Linked DNA regions of Homo sapiens. The protein of the gene in region 1 purifies or fractionates together with the protein of each later gene. This does not show direct contact. Each region holds a gene or a part of one and is shown in the gene's direction. Other genes may lie near its edges.

The links.
Region 2: the proteins of TBC1D9 (region 1) and ROCK2 purify together in Homo sapiens (affinity purification with mass spectrometry; one large-scale study listed by BioGRID and IntAct). This does not show direct contact.
Region 3: the proteins of TBC1D9 (region 1) and LONP2 purify together in Homo sapiens (co-immunoprecipitation; one large-scale study listed by IntAct). This does not show direct contact.
Region 4: the proteins of TBC1D9 (region 1) and NAA25 purify together in Homo sapiens (affinity purification with mass spectrometry; one large-scale study listed by BioGRID and IntAct). This does not show direct contact.
Region 5: the proteins of TBC1D9 (region 1) and PUS7 purify together in Homo sapiens (affinity purification with mass spectrometry; one large-scale study listed by BioGRID and IntAct). This does not show direct contact.
Region 6: the proteins of TBC1D9 (region 1) and PKN2 purify together in Homo sapiens (affinity purification with mass spectrometry; one large-scale study listed by BioGRID and IntAct). This does not show direct contact.
Region 7: the proteins of TBC1D9 (region 1) and SH3PXD2B purify together in Homo sapiens (affinity purification with mass spectrometry; one large-scale study listed by BioGRID and IntAct). This does not show direct contact.

Annotation. Positions count from the first base shown.
Region 1 is NC_000004.12:140,658,738-140,662,755, reverse strand, and holds part of TBC1D9 (TBC1 domain family member 9), read left to right. Parts: intron 1-648; coding exon 649-863; intron 864-3,050; coding exon 3,051-3,168; intron 3,169-4,018. UniProt on the Homo sapiens protein: May act as a GTPase-activating protein for Rab family protein(s).
Region 2 is NC_000002.12:11,194,480-11,198,497, reverse strand, and holds part of ROCK2 (rho-associated protein kinase 2), read left to right. Parts: coding exon 1-7; intron 8-792; coding exon 793-972; intron 973-1,149; coding exon 1,150-1,318; intron 1,319-3,472; coding exon 3,473-3,543; intron 3,544-4,018. UniProt on the Homo sapiens protein: Protein kinase which is a key regulator of actin cytoskeleton and cell polarity.
Region 3 is NC_000016.10:48,250,732-48,254,749, forward strand, and holds part of LONP2 (lon protease homolog 2, peroxisomal), read left to right. Parts: intron 1-1,399; coding exon 1,400-1,634; intron 1,635-4,018. UniProt on the Homo sapiens protein: ATP-dependent serine protease that mediates the selective degradation of misfolded and unassembled polypeptides in the peroxisomal matrix.
Region 4 is NC_000012.12:112,105,542-112,110,019, reverse strand, and holds the start of NAA25 (N-alpha-acetyltransferase 25, NatB auxiliary subunit), read left to right. Parts: upstream 1-1,236; 5' UTR 1,237-1,246; coding exon 1,247-1,304; intron 1,305-4,478. UniProt on the Homo sapiens protein: Non-catalytic subunit of the NatB complex which catalyzes acetylation of the N-terminal methionine residues of peptides beginning with Met-Asp, Met-Glu, Met-Asn and Met-Gln. May play a role in normal cell-cycle progression.
Region 5 is NC_000007.14:105,508,565-105,512,582, reverse strand, and holds part of PUS7 (pseudouridylate synthase 7 homolog), read left to right. Parts: intron 1-4,018. UniProt on the Homo sapiens protein: Pseudouridylate synthase that catalyzes pseudouridylation of RNAs.
Region 6 is NC_000001.11:88,687,074-88,691,091, forward strand, and holds part of PKN2 (serine/threonine-protein kinase N2), read left to right. Parts: intron 1-4,018. UniProt on the Homo sapiens protein: PKC-related serine/threonine-protein kinase and Rho/Rac effector protein that participates in specific signal transduction responses in the cell.
Region 7 is NC_000005.10:172,339,325-172,343,342, reverse strand, and holds part of SH3PXD2B (SH3 and PX domain-containing protein 2B), read left to right. Parts: intron 1-3,426; coding exon 3,427-4,018. UniProt on the Homo sapiens protein: Adapter protein involved in invadopodia and podosome formation and extracellular matrix degradation. Binds matrix metalloproteinases (ADAMs), NADPH oxidases (NOXs) and phosphoinositides.

The DNA of each region.
Region 1 (4,018 bases):
GTAAGTATCTCAAATGGATGATTCTCAGTATAACCCTCCATCCCCATCCCCAACACCTGAGGAACTTCTGTCAACAATGATGACTCACCACTGTTAGGAATACTCTTACCACTCTGCAATTTGAAAAACTCCAAGTATCTCCCTCAATATGGCTATTAAACCCTTCAGAGCTAACACGTTAGCAGGCAGTTTTCAGACTTATTTTGAGAGACAGAACCTCCTATTTCAAGTGAAATCTTAATGAAACCACAATAAAATAAAAGCAAAGCTGCTGGGGTTGAAGAGAGTGATGAGAAGGTGAAGCCTCAGCCTGGCTTGTTATGATGACCTCCCCACCTGTGCTCCTAAGCAGCCCTTCAGGACTGTCTGTGGGAGTTCCTCAGAGCATGGTTTTGTAGCTTGGGAACCTCTACCTTAGGAAAGTTTTTAAGTAGCCAGCCTACTATGGAGCTGAAAGAGGGAAGGAGGCCACAGGCAAATTCACCAGTCTAGCCACGATTGCAACATACCACATCTGTGATTTCACCTTCTCTTGCAAGTTTCCTTTGAGAGGTAGGAAAGTAAAGCAGTTCAATCATAAGCTGTAGTTGCAAACCAAAAGGCAGAGCTCTCACGTTTTTGATACTGTATCTGTTGGATATATCTCAGGTGCCATCAATGAGAAGGCCACACATCCTGGGTACTATGAAGACCTAGTGGAGAAGTCCATGGGGAAGTATAATCTCGCCACGGAGGAGATTGAGAGGGATTTACACCGCTCCCTTCCAGAACACCCAGCTTTTCAGAATGAAATGGGCATTGCTGCACTAAGGAGAGTCTTAACAGCTTATGCTTTTCGAAATCCCAACATAGGGTATTGCCAGGTAAATGTCACAGGTGGTTTTTGCTAAAAAAATAAAATAAAATTTCTATTCATTTGGCAGCAAATAGTGGGAAGGAAGGTTTATGGTTAACAGAACTATCACTTTACCAGGGCCTCTCAACCTTGGCACTGTTGACACTCTGGACTGTTAACTCTTTGTTGTATGGGCTGTTCTATGCTTTGTAGAATGTTTAGTAACATCCCTGGCCCCTACCACTAGATGCTGGTAGAAAATCCCCAGTTGTAACAACCAAAAATGTCTCTAGATATTGCCAGATGTCTGAGAGGCAGAATCATCCTGGGTTGAGAACCACTGCACTGAATGGAGGAGACCTTCCTGGATTCACCACTGTCTAGCTAGGTGACCTGGAGAAGATCCTTCTGATCACTGTCTGCCTCAACCTTCATCCCACCCTGGAGTAAGAGAGGGCATCCTCAGCACCAGGCCTGTCACTGTGGTTCGCCACAGTGTTGCTACTTTGCATCCTCTTAAGTAATAATGTCCTTGAATAGAGCTTTTATATGCTAGGGTTATGTCTTAATACACATTAAAATAAGTGCTTAACTTAGTATTAAGAAAAGTTGCCTACATACCAACAAAAGTCATCTCTTGTACTGGTATAGATGCCAAAATTTGGGAAGCTCCAAAATAACGTGACCTTAGAATCAAAGGCTATATCGGCCAGGTGCGGTGGCTCACGCCCGTAATCCCAACACTTTGGTAAGCCAAGGCCGGAGGATCACGAGGTCAGGAGATCGAGACCATCCTGGCTAACACGGTGAAACACCGTCTCTACTAAAAATACAAAAAATTAGCCAGGCGTGGTGGCAGGTGCCTGTAGTCCCAGCTACTCGGGAGGCTGAGGCAGGAGAATGGCCTGAACCCGGGAGGTGGAGCTTGCAATGAGCTGAGATCATACCACTGCACTCCAGCCTGGGCGACAGAGCAAGACTCCGTCTCAAATTAAAAAAAAAAGAAAGAATCAAAGGCTATATCATTGTAGAGGCCTTCCCTGACCATCCAGCAAAAGCTAAAAGAGGCTGAACTCCTACTTCAACACACAAGTGCACGTACATGCACACGTTAGTCTCCCTCTACTGCATTATTTTACCTCTTTATAACTTCCAATTTAAATAACCCCCCACATAGACTAGTTAACCTTTTCATCTTTGTTTTATCTAACACTAGCATTTAGGACCTGCAAGATATCACCACTCTGTCCCCCATCCTCCAATACCTAGTCCAGAGCCTGTTACAAGGTAGACCCCTAAAAAAACCTATCTCCGCTAAATGACTAAGGAACTGGCAGGGACCATCATCATGTACTAGGATCAGCAGGTTAATTCTCAAGTGGAATTTCCATGATGATGTCACTTGGGAACATAATGAGTAAGACTTACAAGAAAGAGCCTATTAAACCAAAATACCTTTTTTGAAATTGAATTGTAGAAGCCTGATGAACAGTTACCGGTTTCTGGGAGATCAAAAGAAGTACAGGAGGTAGTTGGCCTCTAATATGATAAAGTTCATATTTACCTTTTGATCTTCCTCTTTTTAATTAAGAAGACTATTAAAGTAGTTGAGTCTAGAGTGGTTATGAGGTATCTGATAATATCTTTTAATAAACTACAGTTACTTTAGAATTTAAATCACTCTCAGTTATCACTACCATCTCTCTCCGTATGGAAATGTTGGGTGAGGACTCCAAGTCTGAAAGGTTTCGTTGTTCTCTCAGGAGAGCCTGGAGCCATGTGTACCTGATTATAGAAACCATTACGGAAAGTTACAAAGGAAATGTTTACCTCACTGAATTAAGGATTAAGAACACTGAGAGATTTTAGCAGGTTAAAAGCTTTGTGAAATAGCCTTTGGGCAAATTTTTGGAATAGGGGTTTGCCAGCATGAGTTCGGGGCTCTGTCTGGTGAATATTGGTGTTAAGGAAGACCCTGCACACTTACTGGTTCAAGGACTCAGGTTTTTATGTTTTTACAGGGTCATAAAACAAAACTCAGAAGAATATATGACAGAGACTATGTGTAAAGCCTCCAAAGCCTAAACATATTTATCTCGCTTTTCACAGAAAAGGTTTGCCAGCCCTTGTGAGAATAACTGAGTAATTTTAATATGCTAACAGAATTGCTTATATTTTCAACTGTATTTGATGACATCCTCTTTCACTTTTTTAGGCCATGAATATTGTCACTTCAGTGCTGCTGCTTTATGCCAAAGAGGAGGAAGCTTTCTGGCTGCTTGTGGCTTTGTGTGAGCGCATGCTCCCAGATTACTACAACACCAGAGTTGTGGGTAAGTGGAGATGCATTTAACATTTCAACCTATGTCTCGTCAAGAAGATGCTTTTAGAGAGGTGCCAGCCAGAACACTATTTCTGGTCACCATAAGCCAAAAGAGTTTCAGACTACTCCAGTTTTTCAAAATGGAAATGAGAGAGGTTGAATAAATATAGGTTGTATACAAAGGAGCCCCGTGGAGTTTAAGGGACTATACACATACGCCTGCTCCAGAAATTATTTTAGAAAATATTTCATGTGTGTGTGTCACTCTGACATGTGAGAGCTACACCAGGTATGTGCACCATTAACACAAAGAGATTTGATAAAAAAAATTAATAAAGAGGATGGGAACCTACGAAATACAGAGGTGTTGCCAAAAAAAGGCTATCTGGGGTGGAAAAAATAGAATATAGAGGTTTATTGAAAGCTAGGTTTCTAAGGTATTTTTCAGGACTGGTTTTATTGCAAAGCAAACACCTGTTTTGAGGATTTAAATTATTGCTGTTACTCCTTGTAATTCTCTCAAATATCAGTGATTCATTTTAGCAGGACAAGCTTTTCATTGCTTGGGTTGTACAGTATATTGTTTATGCTTCTCACTTGTGTTCTTTCTATATTTCTAAACATTTGCACATGAATTTGATTATTGAAAATATTGTCAAAAATGTCCTTACGTTGATCATGAATGTGTACAACAGGAATGCTTTTAAGTTTTTTTAAAAAGTAATTGTTTTAAAAAATGATTAATCTGTGGGCACCATGCATCCAGAAGTGTGATTTTTTTTTTTTTTTAAGACCATCTCGCTCTGTCGCCCAGGTTGGAGTACAGTGGCGTGAATTTGGCTCACTACAACCTCCGCCTC
Region 2 (4,018 bases), on another chromosome or scaffold:
AACTCAAGTATGTATAATAGAATCTAAATATGATTTTGAATTTTGTCTCAGTTTATCTCTTTTACATTTTACTTCTAGCATTACAAATTGGTAGCAGTAGTCATCGAATGTACCAATATTTGTGAAGTCACAATTACCTGATTTTTGCCAGGTTGAGAGAAGTTAGATTTGATTAATATTGTTAAATTCTATAGCAACTAAAATTTTTCTTAATATTTCCTTTTGGAATCACATTCTCTTTCAATTTATTGTTGTAATTTAATGTGTTTTTCTACTTTTAAGAACTGTTGGGATTGACCATTTGCTGACAACCTGAAAAGTGTCAGTTAGTTCACTCTCTGCCAACTCCTACAGTTGCATATGTACTGCATGAACAGGTGGGGTACTAGATACTCTTCACTGTTGTTGCACATAGAATATTTTATTAATTTGATGTCACTGCAAAATGTTCTTCCTCCAGAATAAAAGAAGAAAGGTCTGCCTATTAAAGTCTCTCTAGAACTAAAAAGTCAAAATGGTAGAAAGCAACATCAGATCAATTCTATAAATATTTAAATTATAATTCTCAGAAAACACGAGTAAAAATCTAATGGCTCATTGGATGGAGAAGGATGATGAGTAGTAAAGGAGGTGTATTATTTAAATATTATAGAAAGTGTTTCTTTGTAGCCCTGTATGTAGGGAAGGAGAGTATTTGTGATTGTATAACTTGTTGCTCTTGATGAGATACTGAGAAACCATAAACGTAATTTATTTTATTTATGTATTATATTTATTTTTACATTTTTTAAGGCTGTGAATAAGTTGGCTGAGATCATGAATCGAAAAGAACCTGTCAAGCGTGGTAATGACACAGATGTGCGGAGAAAAGAGAAGGAGAATAGAAAGCTACATATGGAGCTTAAATCTGAACGTGAGAAATTGACCCAGCAGATGATCAAGTATCAGAAAGAACTGAATGAAATGCAGGCAGTAAGAATACTTTTTGGACTCTAGACTGAAGACTTCTTTTTAAGAAGTAGAATTATTTTCATGTCTGTGTTTTACTGGTTATAGACCATTTCTATTTAATAATTATTATTGAACCAAGAAGCAAAATGTTGAGTTATGTTGCATCCAATTAACTTATTGTAATTAAATTTCTTATAGCAAATAGCTGAAGAGAGCCAGATTCGAATTGAACTGCAGATGACATTGGACAGTAAAGACAGTGACATTGAGCAGCTGCGGTCACAACTCCAAGCCTTGCATATTGGTCTGGATAGTTCCAGTATAGGCAGTGGACCAGGGGATGCTGAGGCAGATGATGGGTTTCCAGGTATGGATTTGTTTTCAGCACTAATATTTATCTTAAATATAAATCAGTTGATTGTTTTAAGTCTTGCGACTGACTGCTCTGAAGGAAAAATGTTTGTAATTTCTTTAAGGGAAAACCTACTCCTTGGAGTAAGGATTCAAGTAACATTTCAAACTTATTTTATTTATTGATTTTTTTTACAAAGTTTTTCATAAACATACAAAAGAAAAACTCCACATGTCTAGTTTTTAAATTATTATATTAGCTCTATTTTTAAGCTTTCGTTTCATTTTCTCTTCTTTCTGCATTCTTACTTCCTTTTATGTTGGGTGTTTAGTTCATATCACTCAGTCACACACTATGGAATCCATGTCATTCACCTACCAGCGTTCCTCTACTTCTCTCAATATTGCCACTAAGCCTTCCAGTTCTCACACGCTCCTTGACTCTGATTCTGACTCAGAAGAAGAATCTTTGCCTTACTTACCCATTTCATCGGAACCTAATGGTACAGGTGATATCCTGAAAATCTTCTCATCTTTGGAGTTTTTCCCACTACCCTTAATTTTAGTCCTTTTGAAGATTTTTTATGTAACATTAACTAATAACCACTAACTCTAATATGTTGTTGTAGACTCAGTTAAAAATAAACTGCTGCATGAATAAAGAATTTGTTTTTAAGGTATTTTCTCATGGCATTGCTGTTATAATTGATAGATGCCAACTTGCGAGAAATGGAGTAATACATTATATTGCTTAAGAGCGCATGGTTTCACTGCTTGTTTTAGCCATTTTCAACCAAGAAGAAATTCTTCCTGAAGTTTCATAACAAGAGTGGTGGTACAGAAAAAGTACTTCGACTGATTCAAAGGATATGCTTAAGGTTTTTACTGAGTACTTACTGACATTATCCTAGGCATATGTCCTTCATAAGAAACATGAAAGAATTTGGCCCGATCGTTACCCTGAAAGAGATTACAGTTTAAATGAAAACAGCAGAGAGTTCCGTCATTCAGAGTCAGAGGCAGCCCTGTGTGATCTTTCAAGACTGCAGTTTCCTCATCTAAATTAGGAAAATAATTCCTGTTCTGTGCGGTTTTTTTAGGATTAAAGAGAATTTGTGTAAAGCATCCAGCACGATTGATACATAATAGAAGTTAAATAAGTGATAGCTACTTTTACTATTAGAATAACTTCCCCAAATGCTATTTCACATATTTATTTCATTAAAAGACATTGATCAAATGTCATTAAAACAAATTCCGAGGATTCATACACATTCCTTAGTTGAATTACAATGTTACTGATTTTGATATTTTGGAATTTAGAAATCTTTTGATTATTTTGCTGCTTATTAACCAAATTTTATCTAAAATGTACGTAATTGGTCAGGTGTGGTGGCTCATGCCTATAATCCTAGCACTTTGAGAGGCTGAGGCAGACAGATCACCTGAGGTCAGGAGTTCGAGACTAGCCTGGCCAACATGGTGAAACCCCATCGCTACTAAAAATACAAGAAATAGCTGGGCGTGCTGGCGCGTGCCTGTAATCCCAGCTACCTGGGAAGCCAAGTTAGGAGAATCACTGGAACCCAGGATGCACAGCCTGCAGTGAGCCAAGATTACGCCACTACATTCCAGCCTGGGCGACAGAGCAAGACTCCATCTCAAAAAAAAGAAATAAAATAAAACAAAATTTACATTATTTTATTTTATTATAGTTATTCTAAAAGTCCATTTTCTCTGAACACGTAATTATTTAAAATATTTACTCCTTGAAAATGTGCACAATGTGGCCCTCTTCCAAAGGAAAAATAAAGGAGTCTAAGGCAGGTGTACCAGTGAGAATAGAGAGTTGCTGCTGCTGCCTTTTTTTTTTTTTTGGCAACTTTTCTCCTGAATTTTATAAATGCATGAATTTAATCAATGGAACATTTGACTTTATAAAAGTATAGACTATCTGTTTCCAATATGATATAACCTGGATTTTGTTTTGCATTGCATAACTTTTTACTACTGATCCTGTACTATTACTGTATCCTAGATGATGTATAGTGATAAATTCTAAAGGATATATTTTATTTGTTTTATAAATTTCATATTAAAATTTTATTAAGTTCTTTGTTATCTAAGGAGAATTGTTATCTTTAGCCTCACATGTTGTGCTTATTTGTAGAATCAAGATTAGAAGGATGGCTTTCATTGCCTGTACGAAACAACACTAAGAAATTTGGATGGGTTAAAAAGGTAATTGATACTTTGGAATATGAGCCTTTTGTTTTTGTTTTTGTTTTAACTCTAGTCATTTGGCTTTTGTAGTTGTAGGATATACATGACTGGTACCTTTAGACACATAGAACTTGTTTATACTTCAGGATTTGAAATGATATGATTTTATTTATCTTTGTAAAAAATTTTTGTCCTCATACCTTGTTAATAATAAGACAGATTTTATTGTTAGGAAATTGTTGATTTTGATACTTTTGCTGTTTTGTTGGGAAAAGAACTGTGAATATAGTAAAAAAGACCCACTTATTTATTTTCCTCTGTTACTATGATTATTGATGTTATTATGTTTATTTTTGAGAAGGTTACTAATGATGTTGGATCCCAAAGCTAAGTCCAAAAAAATTTGACTTTACTTCTCCCCACAGTTTGCTTATTTAAAATATCTATTAATATAAACAAAATTTATTGTTATTTTAAGGAAGACTGTCCTAAA
Region 3 (4,018 bases), on another chromosome or scaffold:
AATTAATTATGTTTAAGTTATTCTCTAATCAGTTTAGAGGTGGCTCACTTCCTCAGGCAATCTGAGTGGGCTTTCAGGAAGTGGGAAATATTATCTACTATTGATTGAAGAAAAGCAGCCACAACACAAATAAGTCAAAATAATAGCTAATTGCTAAATAATTTCAAGTTTTTTATGTATGTGATTTTTTTCCCTCACCAATTTATCTTCTCAGTTGTTTGGCTTATTATTTAAATCAGTTTTTATTGTAAACATGGTAATGACTGAAAGGTAAGAAAAGGATAGACGTAGTTCAGAATAAACTGAGTGGCAGAAAGAAGCCAAAGGCTATGTGTAATCTACGGAATGAGTAATTTATAAGGAAGTAATCAAGAATTCACTGTGTATAGAAGTAAGCAAGTTCACTCACATAGTCACATACTGTATTACATGATTTATTATCTTTGAGATGGGCAGGTGTGGTGTTCTTCTATTACCGCTTTCCTAGGGTGTTGAGAGTTCTAGTCCTTCTATTTTCTTTTCTGGAATTACCACTTTTCCTATGGCTGAAGGGAGAAAATATTATTTATTTTGGGATCTGGAATTGTCTTCTCAATGTTGATTTTTGTATTTTATATAACTGACTTAGTTTGGATGAGGCTTCCTTTCTGTGAATTAAATTTATATGTGACTTGATCAGAGTTGTATTTGCTGATGAGGAGCTGAGACTTGAAGCCTTTTCACCTATTGTTAGGTAAAATGATTACCACTTAGAACTAGGTTGAGACCTTTTGAGATGTGGGTCTTTCTTTAGCTCTCCTCAGTCTATGGCAGTGTGTGGACTGTAATATTTAGCCCTCACACTTAGAAATTCAGTGTTAAGGGCATATATATAAGTTCCCAGTATGTGATGGCAGCTTGTGATAAGGTGGGTATGTGGAAGTTTCATAGACTGATTATGTAAGAAAACTGACTTGATGTTAGTAGCACAACTGGTGTTGGAACGGAGATTTCTTAGATTGGTTTATGCTATTTATATTTAAATGTATTTAAATTGATAATATTTATCCTGGTATAAGATTGCCTTATTCTTAGTTGACAATGTTAATTTAAGATATGTAATTCTCAGCTGCTTTTCTCTTACATTTTTACGCTTGAATAATCCAAGTGTTTACAAATTCCTACCTAATTTTTTAAAAGAGGTGCAGATTATAGTGAGATGGTCTGCTTTGCCATATAGCTGAGGGTAGTGGCAGAAGAGGCCACATACTGGATGCTAAGTTAAATAGAGAAAAAATTTATTTACACTTCAGATGTCTTTTGCTTAATGAATGTATCAGAAAAGCCAACACTTTCTGAAGTGAGTTTCTGTTCTACCGTATTGAATGTTTGTAATACCGATGTTTTGTGTGTTTTTCAGGATTGGCACAGCTGCACTGGCCGTTCAGGTTGTGGGCAGTAACTGGCCCAAGCCCCACTACACTCTGTTGATTACAGGCCTATGCCGTTTCCAGATTGTACAGGTCTTAAAAGAGAAGCCATATCCCATTGCTGAAGTGGAGCAGTTGGACCGACTTGAGGAGTTTCCCAACACCTGTAAAATGAGGGAGGAGCTAGGAGAACTATCAGAGCAGTTTTACAAATATGCAGTACAAGTAAGTTGCTTTTATTTTTTCTTAAAACCCATTTTTCTTTGGTTCTTTTGCTTTCCTAAGATATGGTGAATCTGTTGGATAGTGAAGTTTTAGGACAGTATACATTTAAATGAGTTAGTAACATTATATATTAATTCTGATTTACTCTTATCTGGGGTTGTACCTAAATCATTCCAGGACATATTGGCCTACCCTTTCTAAAGTTTTCCAAATGTTATTTCTACAGCTTTCCTTCTAACTTCTACTGTCTCTAAACTAGATAATTATTAAACCTAAATATTTAAAGCTAAAAAACGAAATACTGCACAGAAGCTGTCTGTCACTAAAATATCTAGGCACCATTTATATAAATTACAATATATTACTTCAAAAGTCAAGATCACATTGTCTAGCAGTAACTATGGTAGATCAAGCCTGTGGTGGGCTGATTTCAAGTATGGTTAAAACCTTGATTAACTAGAATGCTGGGAAGGAAGCACATTTTAGATATGCATTAAATATTTGACTCTTTAATTCTAGTTCTTTTTGGTTAACTCTAGATAGAACAGAAAGCTCCTATTCCCACCCCATTTTGTTTCAAACCTTAATGAAACATAAAATTATAAAGTATAGTCTTCTACTTTTCTATTAGTTTAATCCAGTGACTATAACTAGATCTATGAGGATCAGATAATGTTTAAAAGTCACAATTATAAATACTACTGATCATTGAAATATGTGTGGGGCAAGTGTTCATAGCCAGTGGTATTTGTATCTGATGTGGCATTTGAAGAGCCATACTTACAGTGTAATGAACAATAACAGAAAAATAGTAAATTTGAGGGCCAGGTGCGCTGGTGCACACCTGTAATCCCAGCACTTTGGGAGGCTGAGGTGGGTGGATTGCTTGAGCCCAGTAGTTCGAGATCAGCCTAGGCAGCATGGTGAGATCCCGTCTCTACAAAATGTACAAAAATTAGCCGAGTGTGATGGTGCGTGCCTGTAGTCCCAGCTACTGGGGAGGCTGAGGTGGGAGGATTACTTGAACCTAGTAGGTGGAAGTTGCAGTGAGCCAAGATTGCATCACTGCATTCCAGCCTGGGCAACAGAGCGAGACCCTGACTCAAAAAAAAAAAAAGAAAAATAGAAAATTTGAATCTGTAATTTCTATATGGGCTGAAAGAAAGCACTTTGAGGAAAGAAATTTCAGTTTGAAAACTGGAATAAGTGAATATACTGCTTAGGAATAAAGGAGATTGAGAGAAATAGAATTTCTTTTTCTTTTCAGCAGTGATGTTCCCTGGGTCTTTGTGCCTCTATTGGACATAGATAGCTTCATAGCCTCTTTTGCTTTGCTTTTACTTCTTTGTACTTTGAATCTAGAGGAACTTTTTAAACTTGTAAAGATTTTGCAGTGACATTAAAGGAATTTTTAGAAATAAATAGATCACCACACATCTTACTGTCATCATGCATCAAATTTAATTTTTGTTCGTCTTCTGGGCTCAGTTCATATTCAATTATATGTTTTGTTTTTGTATCCATGTCTGATGTTCATATTAAGTACTTTTGTTAATTTCATTGAGTTAATGTATACTAATTTTATAATTTCTCTTTTTAGACATTAAAGTTATTTCCAATTATTCTCTTTCATCCCCTTCTGCATCTACTTCTACTTCTGCATCTCTTCAATGAACTTCTTCAATAGCATCCTGTCTCCTAGTTCTTCTGTCTTGAACCTTTTCTCTTCACTGAGCCTTTCTAAAAGAAGTCTGGGGCATCCCATTCCCTTGAGTAAAAGACTTTAATGGCTATAGGATGGACACCAAATTTCTTAGTATAACATTAAGACCGTTTGCAACTTGTCTTGGGCCTATCTGTCTTGCGTCAACTCTAGTTATCACCTCACTGACACCCTAGTTCTAGCTCTACTGAATGTAAAACAGCTTCACATTGAGTTATTTTATGTCTCTATGATTCTGCCTTCAGTTCTCTGCTGGGAGTGCTCTTCCATCTCTGATTTTTTTTTTTTTTTTTGAAATGGAGTCTTGCCCTGTTGCCCAGGCTGGAGTGCAGTGGTGCAATTTCGGCTCACTGCAGCCTCCGCCTCCCGGGTTCAAGCGATTCTCCTGCTTCAGCCTCCCAAGTAGCTGGCATTACAGGCATGCGCCACCACGCCCGGCTAACTTTTTGTGTCTTTAGTAGAGATGAGGTTTCACCATGTTGGCCAGGCTGGTCTCGAACTCCTGACCTCATGATCCAACCGCCACCACGCCCGGCCTCCATCTCTGAATTTTAAAATTGAATCTATGCTTTCCCAACAGCTGTAGGCTGTTAGCGCTCATCTCTGTGTGCCTTCACAGTCTGTCATACATGTCATTTAACATAATGCTTATCACATTGTA
Region 4 (4,478 bases), on another chromosome or scaffold:
ATCTCGGCTCACTGCAAGCTCCGCCTTCCGGGTTCACGCCATTCTCCTGCCTCAGCCTCCCTAGTAGCTGGGACTACAGGCGCCTGTCACTGCGCCCAGCTAATTTTTTGTATTTTTAGTAGAGATGGGGTTTCACCGTGGTCTCGATCTCCTGACCTCGTGATCCGCCCGCCTTGGCCTCCCAAAGTGCTGGGATTACAGGCATGAGCCACCGCGCCCGGCGAGTTAATCACTTATGTCTTTAGATGAATGCACATTTACACGTAGACATATAGCTTAGAAGGTATATAAGCTCTGGAAAGCTTTGTAATTTTAAGTTGGTCTGGTGATAATTTCCAGGCCTTCTCCCTGTAACTGGTTGCAGAAATAAAAACTCGCTTCCTCTCCAGTTCATCTGCATCTCCTTACTGAACCAGGAGAAACAGCAGCCTGACGCTCAGTTTGGTCCAGGAACAGGTGGTGGAGGGCTCTCGAACTTTTTTCTTTTTTTTTTTTTTTTTTTGAGATGGAGTCTCGCTCTGTCGCCCAGGCTGGGGTGCAGTGGCGCGATCTCGGCTTACTGCAAGCTCCGCCTCCTGGGTTCACGCCATTCTCCTGCCTCAGCCTCATGAGTAGCTGGGACTACAGGCGCCCGCCACTACGCCCCGCTAACTTTTTTTGTATTTTTAGTAGAGATGGGGTTTCACCGTGTTAGCCAGGATGGTCTCGATCTCCTGACCTTGTGATCCGCCCGCCTCGGCCTCCCAAAGTGCTGGGATTACAGGCTGAGCCACAGCGCCCGGCTCTCTCGAACTTTTTTGGCAGATTTTTGCTGTTGATCAGCCCCGCTTCCCCAACTTTCCCCTGGGTCTCTCTCCCCCGGGAGTTTCTGGTTCCTCTGCGATTAATCACAGCCAAGTCTAGCTGGTTCTTCAGGACGGAGAATAAATAGGATAAACAGGAGCAGCCGAACCCTAACTTTGAGAGCTTTCTCCCCTCCTCTCCTAACTTCCCAGTCAGTGACTCGGAAGACTTTAACAGCAACAGCTGCCTCCTCTTGCCAGCTTGATCCCACCTGCTAAGTGAAGGAACAGCGTTTAAAGAGGTGGCAATCGGCAAGGGTGGATGCTTCCCTTTCCGCGCAGGCGCGTTCAGTCGCAGCACCGCGACTATCGTGATAGACAAGCGAGATCGACGCTGGCCCTTTAATAGCCCTTTCCCGGGGTCCTGCCCCGCGCGTGCGCACTGTGGTTCTGCGCTTGTCATCATGGCGACGCGGGGCCATGTGCAGGACCCTAACGACAGGCGCCTCCGGCCCATTTACGGTGAGTGTCTTGGACCAGCCCGCTCGCCAGCCCGACGCGCCGAGGGCTGCCGAGGCTGGGGCGAAAGCCCAGGAGGGGTGCTGAGGGCCGGCGCGCGGGCCGGGCAGGCGCAGGGGGGCGGGCCGCGCGGGCCACTAGGCCGCAGCCGCGGGCCTCGCGTAGGCGCCGGCCCAACCTTCCTCAGCCTTGGGGTGGTAGTGGCGCGGTCTGGGCAGCAGCTGGTCGGCAGAGCTGGCCTGCTTGGCAGGCCCCGTGGGACGCGTGGTTCTGCAGACACCTGCGCTACCCGCAGGCTGCATCGTTACCGCCGCTCCTAGGGAGACCGGAGATCTCCCCGAAGGTGGAAGCCGGCTCCGGCACGAGGGTGGGACGCCCTGCCTGAGGGAAGATTCCCTACCAGAGATTTTTTTTTATTTACGGGAATTGGGCCTAGAGGGTTGTCTGACTAGGTGGGCTTCGGTGCATAGGAGAAACTGAGGTCCGGAGTGGGGAAGGGGCTGACGCAAGGTCACCCAGATCGAGTCAGGAGCAGGCCCGAGATTCCAGGCTCCCAATCCAGAGCTGTTGGGTGGAGAAGCAGCTACTCTGGTCACACGTGGGAGGCGGGGGGAGGGGGTCTTGGGCCTAAAATAGCGGTGAAGAGATTGTGATAGCTCGTGTCAGAGGGGCATGCAGAGCTACTGGAGGGCTTCTCCTTTCTGCAGCTTCTCTGTGGTTTTCTCTGCAGCTTTCCTTCCCTGTGCTAAGCAGATCCCTCTCCACAACTCTTACCTCAACCCGCAGACTTGAAGACCTTGATGTCATCTCATCCATTTACCCTGGTAGTGAAAAATCACAGATTTTGAGTTTGGGAGAAACCCTTTTCCAATAACCGAAATGTGTAATTGGATTGGTCCTTTTTGCATTTCCTTTCCTCTTAGATGGTTTTATGGTCTTGGTCTATCTCACTTAATGGTGAGGAAGCTTCAAGGTCAGTGGTTTTTACAAAAGTAGACATCGTATTTATAGACCTCATGTGGATGTTACTAAATTGGAGGCTTCTCTCCAAGGTGGGAATCGTTTTGGGAGCGGGGGGCGGTGGTTAACTTTGTTTCTGGCCACAGTTAGTCCGGCTTTTATTTCATAATTTGTGTGATTTTTTTTTTTACTCTCACATCTCATTTGATTTTAGCAACAATCCTATAGCTAAGGTTTATAGATGACTCATTATGACAGTCACTGGCCTTGGCCTTTTATATGGGTTATCTAATATAATCTTCACCCATTCTCAAGAGGTGGCTACTGTTTTTTCCTGCCCCTGAACCCTTTAACAACAACAACAACAAAAAAAAAAACAGATGAGGAAACTGAGGCTTTATTGTTGTTGTGTAATTTGTCTAAGGCCACTCAGTTAGTATTTCTTGGAGCTAGAATTTGAACCCCTGTGGACTGTTTCAGGCTCACCTTTTTTTTCTTTTGAGATGAGTCTCACTCTGTCGTCCAGGTTGGAGTACAGTGGCACAATCTCAGTTCACTGCACCCTCTGCCTCCCAGGTTCAAGCGATTCTCCTGCCTCAGCCTCCTGAGTAGCTGAGATTACAGTTGCACGCCACCAGGCCCAGCGAACTTCCATGTTTTTAGTAGAGACAGGAGTTTACCATGTTAGCCAGGCTGGACTTGAACTCTTGACCTACTCAGCCTCCCAAAGTGCTGGGATTATAGGTGTGAGCCACCATGCCTGGCTCCAGGCTCACCTTTTTTTTTTTTTTTTTTTTTTTTTTGGAGACAGTCTCATTCTGTCATCCAGGCTAGAGTGCAGTTGCACAATCACAGTGCACTGCAACCAGCCTCCGCCTCCTGGGTTCAAGTGATTCTCCTGCCTCAGTCTCCTGAGTAGCTGGGATTACAGGTGCCCGCCACCATGCCGGCTAATTTTTGTATATATTGTAGAGAATGGGTTTCGTCATGTTGCCCAGTCTAGTCTAAAACTCCTGAGCTCAAGCAGTCCTGCCTCAGCCTCCCAGAGTGCTGGGATTACAGGTGTGAGCCACTGTGCCTGGCCCAGGCTCACCTTCTTAACCACTGTGCTAGAAACTACCTCACTTTGAGCTGAAGACACTGATTTGCCTGAGGTCACACAGATGGTAAGTGGCAGAGAAAGGACTCTGATTTCCTATTTCCCCGGGGCTGCATATTCTCATGCCCTTGCCCTCCAGTGTATATTTTCAGAGGGCAGAGATATATATACAAGGTGGGTGATGGAAGGTGAGAACTGAATCCAGGGTTCATAGTTTGTGACTCATTACAGCTTTGTGCAGCAGCTGCCTGCAGACTTTTTTTTTTTTAAACTAAAAACACTCAATACTTTCAAGAATAATTTGATTTTTAAAATTGTTCTTGAGGACCAAAGAGAATTTCTTTGGTCCCATAGTTATTTAGAATTAATAGTGTTTTGACTGTCTAATGGGAAACACCATGTCCATTTCACATCACTAAACATCAGGATATATTAACAAGTTATATTCTCAAAACTGAAGTCAGAATTATGTAGCTTTTGTAACATGTACATGGGAAGAGGATTAGAAGAGGCTTTCTTCAGTAATTCTAAGGCGATTAGTATAAACTGGCAGGACTAGGAAAAGAACGGTACAGACTGTCCGTGAATTCAGCACTTAAGCACATTTGACTTTTGAACTCCACACTTTTGTTGTTTAAATACATTACTACCCCCAAACAACCATGGTTCCTTGAATTCAGACATTCTGACAAATGAACAAACTCATCTATGGTGGTACTTGCCCACCAGCCAAAAATTCAACAACTATCAGCATTAATTAGTGTTTACTGGTGGGCTGACTGCCCTATTAGGTAGGTAAGATTATTGTGATCAAACTGAAGCCTAGAGATTAACTTGCTCAAGGTTGTAGCTACCAAGTTGTAGAGCTGGGATTTGAACATAGACATTCTCACTGAGAGCTCAGCTCTTCACCAAGTTCAGATTCAGTAGCATCACTGTCTTTGTACAACAGTATTTGTACTGCCAAGGTTTCAGGATTTATTTTACAATTGTGTTGGAAACCTTGCTTGGGGCCTCAGCTCTTGCTGGAATTCATTGAGGGTATATGTGGACAGGGCTATGTGGTGATAAATTGTGGTGGGTTGAAATTTTACTGGTGGTGTCTAGGGTTGGAATAG
Region 5 (4,018 bases), on another chromosome or scaffold:
CCCACGCCCCCATGCCTTTGCACATGCTGTACCTGTGACCCCAAATGACCTTCTCCTGCTTTTCCTTCCTCTTCCTTATGCCACAAAATTTGGCCCAGGCATTGTAGTCTTTGGTTAGGTTTTGTCTTCAGTGTGTTCTCCCGGTCCTTGTGTAAGCCCTGGTCCATTTTTGTCTCCTTCATTTGTACAAAACCTCTGAGGGTAGTTTTGTTGCTGTAAGGTGAGAGTGAAATCGTGTCAGCATTTCATAAACCAGCGTTCTTTTTTTGACTACACCTGTTCAGGACAAAGAGTAAATGCTTTTTTCTTTGAATTAGGGATACTTTTATGTAACTACAGTTGTGGTCTACTTCTATTCCAGTTTCAGTTTCTTCCATTTTCTGTATTTAATTTCTTGTCTTTCAAAGGATTTTTTTTTTTTTTTTTTTTTTTTTTTTTGAGACAGAATCTCTCTCTGTCACCCAGGCTGGAGTGCAGTGGTGCAGTCCCGACTCACTGCAACGTCCGCCTCCCAGGTTCAAGCGATTCTCCTACCTCAGCCTTCTGAGTAGCTGGGATTACAGGCGCCCGCCACCATGCCTGGATAATTTTTTGTATTTTTAGTAGAGATGGGGTTTTACCATGTTGGTCAGGCTGGTCTCGAACTCCTGACCTTGTGATCCACCCGCCTCAGCCTCCCAAAGTGTTGGGATTACAGGCGTGAGCCACTGCACCAGGCCGCCAGAAATTGTTTTAACTGACATTTTTTTCAATCCCTTCTCTCCTATTTTTTGTAGCTGTCATAATACTTTTTTGTTTTGTTTTGTTCGTTTTGTTTTGTTTGAGATGGAGACTCGCTCTGTTGCCTAGGCTGGAGCGCAGTGGCGTCATCTTGACTCAGTGCAACCTCTACCTCCTGGGTTCAAACGATTCTCCTGCCTCAGCCTCTCAAGCAGCTGAGATTACAGGTGTGTGCCCTCACACCCAGCTAATCTTTGTATTTTTACTAGAGAGGGGTTTCACCATGTTGGCCAGGCTGGTCTCGAACTTCTGACCTCAGGTGATCCACCCACCTCAGCCTCCCAAAGTGCTGAGATTTCAGGCATGAGCCATGCGCCTGGCCTGAGCCACAGTACCCAACCACTTTTTTTTTTTTTTTTTAAATGAAAATTTATTCTTAAATGTACAACAGGCTCCAAGACCATACTTCAAGTAGCTATAGGTGGCAAAAGATGTTATGGCAGGGAATACAGATGTTTAAACGGGAATGGGGCCAGGTGCGGTGGCTCACGCCTGTAATCTCAGCACTTTGGGAGGCCGAGGCGGGCAAATCATGAGGTCAGGAGTTTGAGACTAGCCTGGCCAACATGGTGAAGCCCCGTCTCTACTAAAAATACAAAAAATAAGCTGGGCATAGTGGCGGGCGTGCCTGTAATCCCAGCTACTTGGGAGGCTGAGGCAGGAGAATGGTGTGAACCTGGGAGGCGGAGCTTGCAGTAAGCCAAGATCGTGCCACTGCACTCCAGCCTGGGCGACAGAGCGAGACTCCGTCTCAAAAATAAATAAATAAATAACATTTAGTTAATCATCATTATTATTTTGCTGTAGATGCTTATATAGGTGGCTTTCTTGTTAACCATGCCTTGGAGAACTAGCATATTCATTTTCTTTTCATTTGCTTTATTTATGGATATGTTTACTACATTCATCAGTATGTTACCTTCAGCATCTTGTATGTAATTAACATAGAAAAAGTTTTTATCCTTATTTTACCAAGAGCATCAAATTAGACCAGACACGGTGGCTCATGCCTGAAATCCCAGCACTTTGGGAGCCCAGTGTGGGAAGATCACTTGAGGTCAGGAGTTCGAGAGCAGCCTGGCCAACATGGTGAACCCCTGTCTCTACCAAAAATTACAAAAATTAGCCAGGCGTGGTGGTACACGCCTGTGATCCCAGCCACCCGGGAGGCTGAGGTAGGAGGATGGCTTGAGCCCAGGAGGTGGAGGTTGCAGTGAGCCTAGATCGTGCCACTGCTCTCAAGCCTGGGCAACAGAGTGAGACCCTGTCTCAAAAAAAAAATTAAAATTTGCCATTTTAACCACGTGTACAGTTCAGTAGAGTTAAGTGTATTCACATTGTTAGGCAATCACTATCCAGAACTTTTCATCTTGCAGAACTATATACCACCTGTATGACACCTCCCCATTCCTTTTTTTTAATGTGGTATGACATAGGTATGGCTTTCATGTCAGTAAGCGTGGTTATACAATATTTTATTTTATTTATTTATTTTTTTTTTGGAGATAGAGTTTTGCTCTTGTTGCCCAGGCTGGAGTGCAAAGGCACAATTTCAGCTCACCACAACCTCCACCTCCTGGTTTCAAGTGATTCTCCTTCCTCAGTCTCCCGAGTAGCTGGGATTACAGGCATGTGCCACCATGCCCTGCTAATTTTGTATTTTCAGTAGAGACGGAATTTCTCCTTGTTGATCGGGCTGGTCTCAAACTCCCGACCTCAGGTGATCTGCCTGCCTCAGCCTCCCAAAGTATTGGGATTACAGGTGTGAGCCACCGATCCCGGCCACAATATTAATCAGTTTTTTGAAAGGATAATACATATACATCAAACAAGCTTCAAATGATTACAACCATGTTATTGAGTGAGAACAGCAAATTTCCCACCTCTGTCCCCAGCCACCACTTCTAGACCCTCTCCTAGAGGTAACCACCCTTCCCAGTTTCTTGTCAATGTTGCTACATATTGTTCAGTTTATGTACCCAAGTTTCATTGCTGTTAATGTTTTGCTAATATAAAAGCACTGTGGCCAGGCAGGGTGGCTCACACCTATATTCCCAACACTTTGGGAAGCCAAAGTGAGAGCATTACTTGAGCCCAGGAGTTCAAGACCAGACTGAGCAATAATAGCGAGACCTAGTCTTTACAGAAAAATAAAAATAAAAAAACTAGCCAGGCTTGGTGGCATGCTGCTGTAGTCCCAGCTGCTGGGGAGGCTGAGGCAGGAGGATTGCTTGAGCCCAGGAGTTGGAGTTTGCAGTGAGCTGTGATCATGCCACTGCACACCAGACTGGGTGAAAGAGCCAGACCTTGTCACTGAAAAAAAGAAAAAAGTATGGAGATGAATATCCTTAGAGCTAAAACTTTATTATTTCTTAATTATTTTCTTAAGATAAATCCCTAAAAGTAGTATTACTGGGTCAAAGAGCATACATATTTTTAAGGCTTGTGATGATGTGCGGAAGTATTATGCCGGTTTTCTGTCCCACAAAAAGTGTATGCCAACATCTGGAAGAATTATTTCTATAAATGATTTTTAGGATCGTATGAACAACATTAACTATGCCTTTATCTGCTGAAACCAACTTCTTTCCTTTTTTTTTTTTTTTTTTTTTTTTTTTGAGATGGAGTCTTGCTCTGGTCCCCCAGGCTGGAGTGCAGTGGCTCGATCTCTGCTCACTGCAAACTCCGCCTCCCAGGTTCAAGCGATTCTCCTGCCTCAGCCTCCTGACTAGCTGGGATTACAGGCGCCTACCACCACGCCCAGCTAGTTTTTTTTTTGTATTTTTAGTAGAGATGGGGTTTCACCATGTTGGCCAGGCTGATCTCGAACCCCTGACCTTGTGATCCGCCCACCTCGGCCTCCCAAAGTGCTGGGATTACAGGTGTGAGCCACCGTGCCTGACCTTTTTTTTTTTTTTTTTTTTTTTTTTTAAGACAATGTCTCACTCTGTCGCCCAGGCTGGAGTGCAGTGGCACTATCTTAACTCACTGCAACCTCTGCCTCCCGGGTTCAAGCAATGCCCCTGCCTCAGCCTCCCAAGAGCTGGGACTATAGGCGCCTGCCACCCACGCCTAACTAATATTTAGTAGAGATGAGGTTTCACCATGTTGGCCAGGCTGGTCTTGAACTCCTGACCTCAAGTGATCTGCCTGCCTTAACCTCCCTCAAAACGCTGGGATTACAGGTGTGAGCCACCGCGCCCGGCCTGAAACCAGCTTTTATATAGGTGATTGTTAC
Region 6 (4,018 bases), on another chromosome or scaffold:
ATCCAGCTTTTCATTATTTTTTCAAATTGTAGAATTTGAAATACTCCACTGCTTGAGCTGGAATTGGCTTTTGGTCATGGAAAGGCAAAGTAAGAAAATCTGAAACTACAGTATTCTGTCTTGTTAATTACTGTAATAGCATGGAGTAATGTTTTTAAGTATTGTTAGTAATTCAGGAGGCTTATTCAACAAGGAAGCATTAATAAACTATGTAAACTTTGGTGGCTAGAGGTTTCAAGGTATAAGGAAGAATATTTACTGTAGTAAAAATAAAAATCGGCTGTTTAAAATGGCCAATTTCTAATTTTTATCTCATAACTAATTTGTTGTGTTGTATTCTCTTTTTTTATTTGAAGTATAGCAGAAAACAGACATTTTTGCAATGCCAAAGAAACTAAAGTCTATTTCCAAGAAACCTGGATTAATGAAAACTGTAAAGAATCTCAGAATGAAAGTGTTGGCTACAATGGTAATTTTGTAGAATGCAGACCAAATATTGAGCAGTGTACTAACAAAGCTACCTTGTTGATTATTGGAGATTCATTTTCTTCATCAAAATGCCCAATAAAGTGTTGGTCTGGGAATCTTAAATTCCATTCTCAGCAGATTTTATTTAGATAGAGGTAACTTGCTCAAGTGGAAAGTTGAGATAGTTACCCTTAAATTACAGGGGTTAATTTCACCAAACAGTTATGTAGTATCTACCAAAGCTATATTGGAGGATATAAAGATGACAAGATAGGTTTTTGCTTTCCAGAAGAGAGTATAGATAATTGTACTAGAAGATAATTATAAGAGACTACAAATAACATTTTAAAAATTATTTGCTATATATCAGACATTGTACTTAGTGTCCTATACACCTTATTTGATCTTCACAACAATCCAATAAGGTAGGTGTTATTTCCATGTTGTGGATCAGGAAACAAGTTCAAGAATGTTAAGGAAATTGCTCATGGTTACATTGTGTGTCTGAGTTTGAACCCAGGTCTGTATGTTTCCCACTACACTATTCTTTTTTTTTTTTCTGGAGACGGAGTCTCGCACTGTCACCCAGGCTAGAGTGCAGTGGTGTGATCTCTGCTCACTGCAATCTCCACCTCCCAGGTTCAAGCGATTCTCCTGCCTCAGCCTCCCAAGTAGCTGGGATTACAGGCACCTGCCACCACACCCGGCTAATTTTTTGTATTTTTAGTAGAGACGGGGTTTCATTATGTTGGCCAGGCTGGTCTTGAACTCCTGACCTCGTGATTCGCTTGCCTCGGCCTCCCAAAGTGCTGGGATTACAGGTGTGAGCCACCATGCCCGGCGCCACTACACCATTATTTAAATTGCCACAGTTCTGGGGAACTATAAATGTTTTGCATCTAATGTTATAGTTGTATGAACTTTCTACAAATTGGCCAAAAACGTAATTAACCAACATTAACTTTACACTACTTGTTAGCTCCGTCTGTAACAAGGAAAAATGATTTCTACATTCCACTTGGTAGTCTATAATTTAGCAGTGTTTTATTATTGTAGATACAGTCTAATATTTCACAAAGAATAATAGTACAAATAATCTTTTTACAGGGTTTCTTCATTAAGAATTACTGTTTCTAATGAAAGGTGTCACATGCTTGCCCAAAACTTCCCAAAAGATTTAACATTACTCTGTAGACTGTGCTTTGCTTTAAAATTTTATACTCACATGTAACCTAGCTCTGTGTTTGACACTTAGTAGGTGCGCAATACATTGATGAGAATGCTCCATTTGTCACGTAGGAGGAGGGATGTCTAGGTTATTTTAAGAGAAGTTCATTATAATCTTTGACATATGAAATTACGTAGTTTTCTTTAATTTACATTTCTAATCCCTTCTCCCAAAAATATTCTCTTTAAAAGTACAAAAGGGATTTCTATAGTAGTTACATCATTCTTCCATATAGCACACTGGTAGTTTACTCATTTAATGGAAAATGAGAAGACGGCATCTAATTTTGCAGTGACACTGGAAAGTGGAAGGTCTGAGTTGGGAGGATTAAAATTTTAGGGTGGTTTGGGGGTTGGTGGTATGAGAAGGTAAACAGGGTAGTTAAGACAGACTTTACATTGTTTTCAAATTAGAAATGTAATGCACATGTATTACAGAAAATCCAGAAAATGTGGAAAAGCACAAAAGAAAATAAAAGTTGCTCATAGTTCTGTCACTTAGAGACTGACAGACTTTTTCCACCTAAAAGTCCCATGGCTGTAGAGTCCATTTTTTCTTTTTTTTCTTTATCTCATTTTACTTACTAGAATTTTGAAGAAAAATGAAGCTCAGAGAATTTTAAGATAGAAATCACAGTAGGTTAAAAACTTTTTTCTTGCCACTGGTTCTAGATGAGTGGATCTAATTAGCTTTTATTGCCTTTTTTAATCTCAAAATATTTCAATTATGAGTCACGGCTTTATTAAGAAGAAAAGTGCAGGCTGGGCATAGTGGCTCACACCTGTAATTCCAGTGCTTTGGGAGGCTGAGACAGGCGGATCACCTGAGGTCAGGAGTTCGAGACTAGCCTGGCCAACTTGGTGAAACCCTGTCTCTACTAAAAATACAAAAATTAGCCAGGTGTGGTGATGTGTGCCTGTAATCCCAACTACTTGGGAGGCTGAGGCACAAGAATTGCTTGAACTCAGGAGGCGGAGGTTGCAGTGAGCTGAGATCACGCAACTGCACTCCAGCCTTGGTGACAGAGTGAGAACCTGTCTCAAAGAAAAGTGCAGTAGTATGGATTTAGTAATAGACAGTAATGAAGTATAGCAACAATTTCTTTGAATAATATAGCAATACAGTGTGTTTTTCCGGCTTAGGTTTGATTGTTGCTGCTCTTATAGACTACCACAATGTTTGTAATTTGCAGCGCATACTTTGCTGAATTAAACATACTAAATAACTTTCCAAATATTTCTTGACTACCAAGATAAAAGTCTGTGTTAAAACTAGTGTTACTAAATGATGGCTCTAAAATGGATTTTTTTGTCATCTCTCATTAGTGTAATAGAGATTAGGTCTAGTATCATGCAATTCCTACCATTCACATAGTGTTGAAATAGGGACAAGTAGGGGCACCTTTTAGACATCATCTCTTTATCCCAGAGCTTAGCATCTGATTCCTTGGGCTCTCTTATTTCTGCTTTTTGAATTTGGCAATGGTAAATTTTCATGCCATTCATCAGAAGCATGTTTACTTTTAAACAAATAAAGTAGTAGTTTGTAAACATCACCTAAAATAATGTTACTTTCATACCATAAATGGTATTTGAATAAAACAGTTAATTCTACATTATTCCCTCATAAAATATACTGTGCTGATAATTGTCAAATGTCTATATTATTTCAAAAGCCAATTTTACTCTACAGTATATGACATTTAATATGATCAACTTTTGATATACAGCAGAGTTCAAACTTGACAGCAAAGTTGAAAACTAGTTAAAAGCTTTAAAAAGATTTAAAATTTAGAGTGGGAAAAATATACTAATGAAAAAGTAATTCCTTAATGAAACAGAAATAGAGAATCTTTATCTTGATGCATGTCTAGCTTGTCTTAATTTTATCTGATGAAATCTTGTTTGAAACTAGCTCTATTATCATACTTGGTTTTTTTTTGCAATCACAAAAATGAAATTTGTGTAACATTATATACATAAATATTGCCTGTAAAAAATGAAGATCAAGAAAGCATGGGACAGTGTACTTGATGACAGTAAACACCTTAAATGTGAAGGTAGTGTTGAAGTGCCTCATAAAGATGAGTGGATATACAAGACTTACATAATATTGTTAGGATTTATCTCTTTTAGAAATTTGTCAGTGACTTATCAAATTGGTGAAAGTTTTACTGCCCTGGCTCATAAGTACCTTAATTTAATGGAATGTAGTTATGACAAAATTTGGAATTTATTTTTGATTATAGAAGACATACCACACAATACATGTGCTGAGAGTTTTTTATTTATTTTATTTTTATTTTTATTTTTGAGACAGGAT
Region 7 (4,018 bases), on another chromosome or scaffold:
AGTTCCTCACATACAGACTTAAGTATTAGTGTTGTTGAATTCATGGATGTGCTGACGATGACTCGTATGCCCAGTGTGGCCTGTAATTTTTACCAGAGCTATCAAGCGTTGATAAGATGCCAGTCATCCTCACATAAACAGCTTACATTTATCAGTGGCCTTTCCTGGAGATTCCAGTGGGACTCATTAAGTGCTGCCTGTCAAGTGCATCCCGCTGGCTCAGTGACCTCCACTCTAATTTAATCGCAGCAGCATTATTTACCAAGTGCTGTTGTATGCATTAGCTCTTGCGGCTGCAAAAATTCTACAAGTGGGTGTTAAATTGTTCTTACCATTTTCCTTCTGTGATGTGGAATCTGAGGCACGTGGCTTGCCCCAGGCCACTCAGGCAGTAAGTGGCAGAGCCAAGACTAGAACCCAGGACTGCAGGCCCAGGAGCCCAGCATTTGCGTCCTGGCGCTGAGTCTGTGGCTGCCATCCCTCTCCCAGAAGGGCCACAAAGTACCCGCAGCCATCTTTGCTCCTTCTGCAATTTCTTACCCCGGACACAGCCCTTCTCCAAGCAGGGTCTTTTTTTTTTTCGAGACAGAGTCTTGCTCTGTCGCCCAGGCTGGAGTGCAATGGCACGATCTCGGCTCACTGCAACCTCTGCCTCCCAGGTTCAAGCGTTTCTCCTGCCTCAGCCTCCCGCGTAGCTGGGATTACAGGCGCATGCCACCACACCCAGCTAATTTTTTGTATTTTTCGTAGACGCAGGGTTTCACCATGTTGGCCAGGCTGGTCTCAAACTCCTGACCCAGGTGATCCGCCCGCCTTGGCCTCCCAAAGTGCTGGGATTACAGGTGTGAGCCACCGCGCCCGGCCAGGGGTTTCTTTTCTGAGAGGCAAGATTAGGTGACTCTGAAGCCCACCCCGCTGCCTTTGACTCTCCTCCGATCGACGGCCCTTCTACAGGACCCGCTGTGTGTTCCTCAGCTCTCCTGAGGCTCCGTTCTGCATGCGTAAAATGAGGTGACAGTTCCCCACTCACAGGGTGTCATGAGCGTTCATCAGATCTTCCGAGTCCAGAGAGAGCCTACCAGGGAATTGCAGTGTACATCTGTGATGGCTGCCATAACAAAATACCAGACTGGGTGGCTTAAACAACTGCAGTTTATTGTCTCACAGTTTGGGAAGCCAGAAGTTCAAGATCAAGGTGTCAGCAGGTTTGGTTTCTCCTGTGTCCTCTCTCCCTGGCTTCCATATGGACACCTTCTTGCTGTTTCTCACGTGGTCATCCCTCAGTCCCTGTGTGTTTTCTAATCTCCTCTTCTTATTTGGACATCAGTCATATTGAACTAGGGCCCATGTATTAGGCCATTCCTGCATTGCTATAAAGAAATACCTGGCTGGGCACGGTGACTCATGCCTATAATCCCAGCACTTTGGGAGGCCGAGATGGGCAGATCACGAGGTCAGGAGATCAAGCCCATCCTGGCTAACACGGTGAAACCCCATCTCTACTAAAAATACAAAAAAAAAAAAATTAGCCGGGCACGGTGGCAGGCGCCTGTAGTCCCAGCTACTTGGGAGGCTGAGGCAGGAGAATGGCGTGAACCCAGGCGGCGGAGCCTGCAGTGAGCCGAGATAGTGCCACTGCACTCCAGCCTGGGCAACAGAGCGAGACTCTGTCTCAAAAAAATAAATAAATAAATACCTGAGACTGGGTAATTTATAAAGAAAAGAGGTTTACTTGACTCATAGTTGGGCATGCTGTACAGAAAGCATGGTGCCAGCATCTGCTTGCCTTCTGGGGAGGCTCAGGGAGCTTTTACTCAGGGCGGAAGGCAAAGCAGGAGTAGGCACATCACATAGCAAGAGCAGGAGCAAGAGAGAGTGGCAAGGAGACACCACACACTTTTAAACAACCAGATCCCATGGGAACTCATTACCAAGGGAAGGACACCAAGCCATTCATGAGGGATCTGCCCCCGTGACCCAAACACCTCCCACCAGGCCCCACCTCCATCATTGGGGATCACATTTCAACATGAGACTTGGGTGGGGACATACATCCAAACTCAGCCCACCTTAATGATCCATTTTAACCTTAACCACCTCTTTAAAGGCCCCATTTCCAAGTACAGTCACAGTTGGAGGTATTGGGGGTTAGGGCTTCAACATACGAATTTGGGTAGGGGGACACAATTCAGCCCATAATAGCGAGCACACCTTTCACCTGTGTGAATTCAGCCACGCAGTGCTGGACAAAAAAGAGACAGAGAACAAGATCTTAGACAACATGAGTGATTCCACCCACCATTCCAGCCAACAGGCGTGTATCCCACAGGGAAGTAGGGACACGATGAAAATCTACTCTACTCCACCAGCTCCAGGTCCCCTGTATATAAACACGAGCATCTCTTTGAGCTGACTGTGATTCCTGTGTTCAAAGATAGATATTTTTCAGGCCAGGCACAGTGGCTCACACCTGTAATCCCAGAACTTTGGGAGGCCGAGGCAGGCAGATCGCTAGAGACCAGGAGTTCGAGATCAGCCTGGCCAACATGGTAAAACCCCATCTCTACTAAAAATACAAAAATTAGCCAGGTGTGGTGGTACATGCCTGTAATCCCAGCTACTTGGGAGACTAAGGCATGAGAATCGCTTGAACCTGGGAGGCGGAGGTTGCAGTGAGCTGAGATCATGCCACTGCACTTCAGCCTGGGTGACAGAGCAAGACTCTGTCTCAAAAAAAAGGTAGGTCTCTTTCATGTGTTGTGGACTCTATAAATGCCAGCTAACTTCTTCATCCGATGCTCAGCCAAAGAAGCCAGGATCAAGGGTAGCTCTGACTTCTGCCTTGTCTTTAGAATTGTAGCAGACGCTGCCGGTGCCTCTGATCCACCTGAATTCACCTGCGCCTACACACAGGTCCCTGCAAGCCGACAGCTTCCCAGAAGGGGAGAGGAGTTAATACCCTGGGTAGGGAGGAGCTGAGAGTCAATAGATAAATGCACGCATCCCCAGAGGGACCCGTTCTGAGGCACTGTCTTTGTGGTCTCTCAGAGGGTCCCTGGCAGATCAAGCCCCATGGCCCCGAGCAATAACTTGCTCATAATTGGCCTCTCCCTTTCCCTTCTTTCTCTGTCTACTTCCTTACTTGTATTTCCTAGGACCAACTCTCAAATTAAGTACCTATACCCAAGGCCACATCTCATGGACTGCTTTAGGGGGAGTCCCATACGACAAGACTCTCCCCCCATGTAAGATATTCCCGGAACATGGTAACATCTCCATTGGTGGTCCCTGTAGACCTTGTCAGAGGAGCTGCTGAGTACACAGTGACAGCTTCTAGAGCTCCAGTTGCACATGGGTTCTGCCAAACCATTCCATCTGCTGGCCCTGGCATCGTAGCCAAGTGCCTTTCTCTATCCTCCCTTGCAGGTGATCGAGAAAAACTTGAGTGGCTGGTGGTACATTCAGATTGAAGATAAGGAAGGGTGGGCCCCGGCCACCTTCATTGACAAGTACAAGAAGACGAGCAACGCGTCGAGACCCAACTTTCTGGCTCCCCTGCCCCACGAGGTGACCCAGCTCCGGCTGGGGGAAGCAGCAGCGCTGGAGAACAACACGGGCAGCGAAGCCACGGGCCCCTCCCGGCCCCTGCCTGACGCACCGCATGGTGTCATGGACTCGGGGTTGCCATGGTCTAAAGACTGGAAGGGCAGTAAGGATGTCCTGAGGAAGGCATCTTCAGACATGTCTGCGTCAGCAGGCTACGAGGAGATCTCAGACCCCGACATGGAGGAGAAGCCCAGCCTCCCTCCGCGGAAAGAATCCATCATCAAGTCGGAGGGGGAGCTGCTGGAGCGGGAGCGGGAGCGGCAGAGGACGGAGCAGCTCCGGGGCCCCACTCCCAAGCCTCCGGGCGTGATTTTGCCGATGATGCCAGCCAAACACATCCCTCCAGCCCGGGACAGCAGGAGGCCAGAGCCCAAACCTGACAAAAGCAGACTGTTCCAGCTGAAAAATGACA